Regions from separate parts of the Homo sapiens genome. Here region 1 is reported to be linked to region 2. The links are microRNA targets in miRTarBase. Many come from high-throughput screens and were not tested one by one. Region 2 holds a microRNA gene; the other region holds the end of a gene's coding sequence.

Evidence for each region. The annotated mature microRNA hsa-miR-4677-3p reads UCUGUGAGACCAAAGAACUACU and lies in region 2 at 1,753-1,774, opposite strand. An mRNA with a match to its seed (bases 2 to 7 or 8) in the 3' UTR can be bound and repressed. Matches are read on the target gene's strand: a 7mer-m8 pairs with bases 2 to 8, a 7mer-A1 pairs with bases 2 to 7 and ends in A, and an 8mer does both.
Region 1: miRTarBase lists BCL2L14 as a target of hsa-miR-4677-3p. The part of its 3' UTR that is shown has no 7-base or 8-base seed match.

The regions. Positions count from the first base shown.
Region 1 is chr12:12,098,367-12,101,783 of GRCh38, reverse strand. BCL2L14 (BCL2 like 14) reads right to left here. Exons shown (of 6, transcript NM_138723.2): 6 at 2,089-2,834. The coding sequence ends at 2,796. Among named protein-coding and RNA genes, the nearest start is that of MIR1244-4, 12 kb to the left of the region's middle.
Region 2 is chr1:243,344,582-243,347,998 of GRCh38, reverse strand. MIR4677 (microRNA 4677) reads right to left here and starts at 1,823; the gene lies at 1,744-1,823. All of the region lies in intron 12 of SDCCAG8 (SHH signaling and ciliogenesis regulator SDCCAG8), which reads right to left.

The sequences.
Region 1 (3,417 bases), not on the chromosome of region 2:
TGTTTTGTGGATTCTACCTATTGCCAAAATAGGCAGTATTCATGGCCTTGTGTAGGCTTTGGAGAGCGTTCCCTTTAATATTTTCAGGTGGTTCTTCCCCATGCCTTGGGTAATTTCTTCATGCACATGTTTTGATCAGTATTCATCTGAATACCTAAGGGGAAATATCTGCAGGTCTCTGGAGCTTTGTGTGCCTCTCTCTTTCATCCTTTATCAGACTTGCAAACTTCAGCTGCTCTGATCTTTCTGGACTCCTAGCTCTATCCTCTCTACTCAGGGAGCTGGTGAACTCTGCGTGGGTTCCCCTCTCTCCAGCATGACCTAGAAACTCTTTGCATGCAGTACTCTAGGGCAAACATAGGGCTCACTTAGAGTCTCATCTCTCAGGGACCAGTTCTCTAAAAGGAGACTCCTAGCCAGACGCGGTGGCTCACGCCTGTAATCCCAGCACTTTGGGAGGCTGAGGCAGGCAGATCACGAGGTCAGGAGATCGAGACCATCCTGGCTAACACAGTGAAACCCCGTCTCTACTAAAAATACAAAAAAAAAAAAAAATTACCTAATGTCCAATGCCTTGAAAATCATTCTCATCTATAGTGTCTTTTTTTTTTTTTAGTTGTTTCAAGCAGGAGATTAAATCTCGTTAGTTACTTCATCTTGACCACAAGCCATAGATGATATTGGAAACACATGGAGAGCTTGTTGTAAGTACACATATCTTAGGGCATATTCCAGTCATACTGATTTACAAGCTGTATCAGTCAGACGAGGGTATGGTTCTGCAACTGTGTGCCAAAACTATGCCAGGCACTAGATATATAAAGTTAAATTAGGCATAGTACCTGTTTGCAAACGACTTTACAATCCACTGAGAAAGACTGGGTAAACCAAATCTTACGGTGCAATATATTAAGCATAATGTCTACATGCAGGGTGATTTGGAGCATCTTATGAGAAAAGGCATCCAAATATAGCCACATGATGGCCAAGGGAGGGTTAGCAAATGAGTCCTGGAGGAAACTGAGGAAATTTGGAAAGATGAGCTAGAGTTAGTTGTTTTAGTGGAAACAGGGGGAAAGGAAGCCATCATGCAAGAACACTCCAAGTAGAGAGGATACTGTTATGAAGGCTCAGAGGTGCCAGGTTGCATAATACCTTTGGGGAACTGCAAAAAGTTTGGAATGGCGAGATCAGAGTGGATGGAGGAAGAGGTGGTCTTCAGTGTCTCCATGTCTAAAAGGAGACTCCTGGCTGGGTGTGGTGGCTCACGCCTGTAATCCCAGCACTTTGGGAGGCCAAGGCGGGCAGATCACGAGGTCAGGAGATCTAGACCATCCTGGCTAACATGGTGAAACCCCGTCTCTACTAAAAATACAAAAAAAAAAATTAGCCGGGCATGGTGGCGGGTGCCTGTAATCTCAGCTACCTGGGAGGCTGAGACAGGAGAATTGCTTGAACCCAGGAGGCGGAGGTTGCAGTGAGCCGAGATCACGCCACTGCACTGCAGCCTGGGTGACAGAGCGAGAGTCTGTCTCAAAACAAAACAAAACAAACAAACAAACAAAAAATGGAGACTCCTCTATCCCTAACAGTGATGACTTTCATGTGGGAGAAGAAAACAAAAGAGAATAACTCATTTTATTGAGATGGGTAGGCTAGTGAAGCATTTGATAATAGATAGATCCAGTTTTCCCTTGAACCTGAGAGTATGTCTGACTTACTGACTTGTTTGTTCTTCAAAGTTTTATTAAGCACCAGTTTTACATCAGGCCATATGCTGGGTACTACATATCCAGAAATTTGTAAGACCTTATAATTTGATAGTATTTTTTAAATTGTTTTGTGTCTTAAACACTTACTATTGAGCATGTTTCTAAAAAACCTTATACCGAACAGCCGCAATCTCAGGAAAGCAATCAGTGACTGCGTTGACAGGAGAGGAAATTGGCAGCTTAGCTGAGGGCAGCACACATTAGGGACCATAAGTGAAGACTTAACATTAAGTACCAAGAAGTGTTCTGAGCATTTTATGTAAATTAACTCATTTGATAATCAGAAGACTTATTACTTACTAATCAGAAGACACTCTTTTGACAGTAGTCTTTCTATGTATTTATTTTACCTGCTACCAATCATTGTACTACCACAAAGAATGAGGAAGTCCCAGGGACCTTGGGAAGAAGAGGTGTGGTCCCTGAGAAAAGGGTTGAGGGGGTGTTGGAGTAAAAATTTTGTACCAAATGGAAGTTTTTCAAAAAGGCACAGACAACAGTTACCTCTCCAAACAAATGGATGTAGCAGTAAACCTAAGAGTTTCTTTAGGCTGTTTACTAACGTGAATAGCAACATCTTCCTAGGTATTAGGCCACCCCAAGTGTAGTTTAAAAATAAATAGTACTAGAAACGGAAGTGGAAACACATGCACAGTTTATCTTTTCACTCTTGTGAGGTCAGCAGACATCTGTAACGCACTTTCCCTACAGCAGCTAACAAAGGCAGGATGATGGTATCTGTTCTGAACGTTTGAAACAACATCACCACTTATCTTTACAGATTTCCTCAGGTTCTCAATGGAGGGCCTGAAAAACATCACTGTCAAGGATGATGCTGCTACATTTTATGAGCTGGAGACGAACGAGACCTCTCCTGATGCCTCTCCAGTCACAGGAATAATGGTTTTGAAAACGTCAATGCTCCATCTGCCTTGTACGTTGTAATCTCCTGTAGTCCATCTGAGGCCAACGTGCACAGGACCACAGTAGACAAAGAGTATTCCTGATGACAAATCTGATATTTCAGTCTACTTCTTCATGTGATATCCCAAGTATTTTTTCCTAGAGGGGAAAAATAGGTTCTTAAAATTCCAAGTTAGATTTACTGTTGAAGTGAAAACATATGGCTGCTAACTCTGCTCTATCCCAGGCGTGACCCGAGGCTCAGGAGACCATGTTAGTTTGGGGGAGGGTTTGGAGAGGTGACTGGCATTCTTGGTATGCCTGCAAGGAAGACATCAGCTAAGGTCTTACGTTACACACCCAGAGCTAACAGGCTGGATCTTTCCTTGAAGATGGGAGGGCTTCAAGGGTGTATTTAAAATGTAATAAAAGTGGGTACTGAAAGGTCAATGACTATGAAGGTTACAACTCTCTCCTTTCAAAGTGCTACAGAATGGGTGAGGTTGCAGGACTGCAGGGTAACTATGTGAATGGTGCTCCACAGAGAGCACAAAGAGCCAAGGAGTAAATCAGAATCTCGTGGTAGCTTGTTTGGCATGCCTTGTAGATAGAGTTGCTATTCATTCATTTGATCGATTCATTCACCGTTCTACAAGTACTGGCTGAACATCTATGGTGTTATGTAGAGGAATGGGAGCTATGGGAGATTAAAGGAGCCATCATAAAAACATGATCTCACCCT
Region 2 (3,417 bases):
GGGAGGAGGGGCAAGGAGAGAGAGACTGAAGAAGAAAGGAAAATGTTTTATATTTTAGTTCTTTTTAATATCACTTCTTTCCTGCTTTCTGAACAAAAGGGTCCTGTATTTTCACTTTGCACTGGGCCCTAATCAAAGGTTAGCGGCTATAAAGAATCGTCTTCTCAGATTAATTTACCAAAAGGGAAGTTGACAAAAAAACTCTATTTCTGCATCACTCATTTCAGGTCAGCTCATCCTTGTCATGTTAGGGCCTCCTGCAACATGTCCAAATCTTAAATACAAGGCTGTGAAATTAATGCTGAATTTGGGGTTTCGGATGCGAGGAAGCTCCTTTTGGGATATGATTATCAGGAATGCTGCGTGGTAGCCATTTCCTTCACATACTTTGCTGTAGGATTAATTTATACCTCTTTAGAATGACAATGAGGCATTTTATAAAAATAAAGCATAATCAAAACATTATGTACAAAATTTAACAGACAACAACAAAGAAAGATGAAATTTTACTAAGAGTTCTGTTTATTTCCTATTAAAAAGGGTAACACCAGAAAATTGGACATACAAAAACATACTTGTTCTCCTAATTTGAATAAACCAACTGTAAAATCAACATTTTTGAGACAAAGAAATGTGAATATAGGCTGGGTGTTATTTGATATTAAAGAAGTATTGTTAACATTGTTAGGTATGATAATGACATAGTATGTAAAAATATCCTTCATAGATCCACATGGGTATTTATGAGTAAAATAACATAAGGTCTGAGATCCATTTAAAATACTTCTGCAAAAGAAGAAAAAGAGGTAGAGGAAGAAGACAGAAGAAGATGAAGATGAGAAGGTGGAGCAGAAAAAACATGACAAAGAAGATGAAGGTGACGATGAGGACAGAAGTAGAGAGAAAAAAGTGAGATAGATGGAATAGGATTGAGGAGGAGGACTGGCAAAATGATGAGTGATGGAATAGGATTGAGGAAGGGGACTGGCAAAATGATGAGTGATGGAATAGGACTGAGGAAGAGGACGGGCAAAATGATGAGTGTAGGTGATGGAAATGTGAGGACTCATTACAATATTCCCTATACCCTCATACATGTTTTTAAATTCCCCTGATCGAGTGTGTGTGTGTGTATAACCATTGCCTAAAAAAATTTCTCATAAAAATCAAAGAGCATATTTCACATTCTCCTCCATACCAAATGCCTCTTTTTCTGGTGCAAGAAGCATCCTCTGAGGCTGACAGGAATTCTCTAAGCTGAAGAGATACAAAGGAGTTGATGGGAAGGATAATCCGCCCATCGGTTCCTGACACAATATAAAGAAGAAAAGAAGAAAGTGGGTGGAAGCGACTGCCATTGTTACTCTCCTAACCTTTCCTTCTAATTATGCCAGAGCCAAGGCTCAGGTCACAAGGAAAATTATTTTGGTGGTTAACCATTTGCCCTATTTTGTATACATCAAAAAAGCTGTTGTTCTCACACATTCCAATCTCACAGTTTCCCACCCACTTTAAAAATGTATCAAGTGGTCAGATGAACTAAAATATGAATAAAATGACTATATTATGAAGAACACCTTGTTTGCAAACCTACAGATAGCCTGCTTGTGATGCTGAATTGTAAGATACACAACACTTAAACATTTAATCTACTTTATATTATTGTAGGTATTTCAGATAAATGCTCAACATGCCCCGCTTTTAAAAGTTAAATGTAAATTTCTCTCTTGAGTGCAGATGGTGGCCAAGCAAAGTAGTTCTTTGGTCTCACAGACAGAAGGTCAGGTCATGGCTGAAAGACCAAAGAACAATTGCTGCTTTGCTACTCCAAATCATCCATGGAATGAGACACCACGACTTCTTTTCTGAAACTGTCTGTTCAATACAAAACAGTTAAAAAGAGTACCTATAAGATTTCCTCACATTCCGTCTGGGAAAAAAAAATGGTAACAAGCACATCACTTCACAACACATCACAAACATCTTGTAACTGTTCAGAGGTTTTATTCCTAAAGCTGTGACCTCCTAAAAAGGCACATCTCTATCTAAAAACATACCACTAAACGTCATTATGAAAACTACTATTGTTTCACTATTATCAGAAAACGTTTACAAATGAAAACTGCTCCTTGTAAATCCTGCAACTTTAGCCTCCATACCATCACGGATTAATTAAAATGAGATTTAATACTGCAAATACTTCTAATATTGCAAATGCTTCTAAACAAGTTATTCCTTTACAAGTGATATTATACTCCTATTGTCCCTGATCTTTTTTCCTCTAGAAAATTATAATGGAATTTTAAATAACTGAGACTCTTTCCTGATGTATTTTTGCAGTTAGTCCAAAATATTATGCTGTCAGAATGCTGTAGAATAATACGAAAGGCCAAAAGTATGCCAATATATTGATTCCTTTTTAAAAAATTACAATATATCAGGAAAGAAAAGTTATCTGTGATAAACTTAGTAGACCTAGGCCTTCAGTCCCTGACAGAAAGCATTTTCCATTCCACTATCAGGCACGCCCCCAACTGGATGCAATAAAATGTTTCATTATTTGTACATGTTAATAATTAAAAGTCTTCTGAAAATGTAAAACCCATTACAACACCAAATATAGTGGTACAAAAGCAGAATTTTACTTTGGTTGCCAGGATTTTAATTTAGTACTAAGGATTTCAGTTATGACTTGAAAAGCTTTTTGTTCTAGTCTTCATTATCACTTTCATTTTCAATACTTTTCCCAATTGTCTTTGCATCATTTGTTGTAAAGACTTCATTGGCTCAAAAGAGAAAATATGTTGGAAAATATGATGAAAAACCTCGAACTAGAAACATATTTGAAAAAAAACTTATTTGGAGCGACCTACTTCTAAATTCTAAAACAATTATTTTAAAATATTGACACTAAGAACCCAGTCTTACTATTTTAATTGAATAAACAACCTGCTTTCATTGAATACAAAGAATGAAAACCTTCAAGGTCCTGTACTGTAACATAAAAATAGAAAATCAAAAGTCAGCCTATTAGAACTGCCTCTCTAAAAACTTTATCCATGTTGTCAACTAAAATTGGAGTTATCTACTTCATCTCAATAAAGATATAACATAAAACATCTGTTCAAACTGAAATTAAAGTACGCAGCTTTTATCCACTAACATTTCTAATGTCACTGTATTTAGGCTTCATGAACAAACGTATTCATGGTTATCTTAGTTAAAACTGGTTTCACTCTGCCAACAATCAATTTGATTGACATATTTACATATCAACTCATCTCATCTTACGAATTTTAAACTTTTTCATTTAAAATTGGATTCAAGTTGGCATCTTTCAAGAACTTTATGTATGTATATTTTAGGTTCAAACTGTGCATTAGAACATTTCTTTTTACTTTTGTAAGTAATAGATAC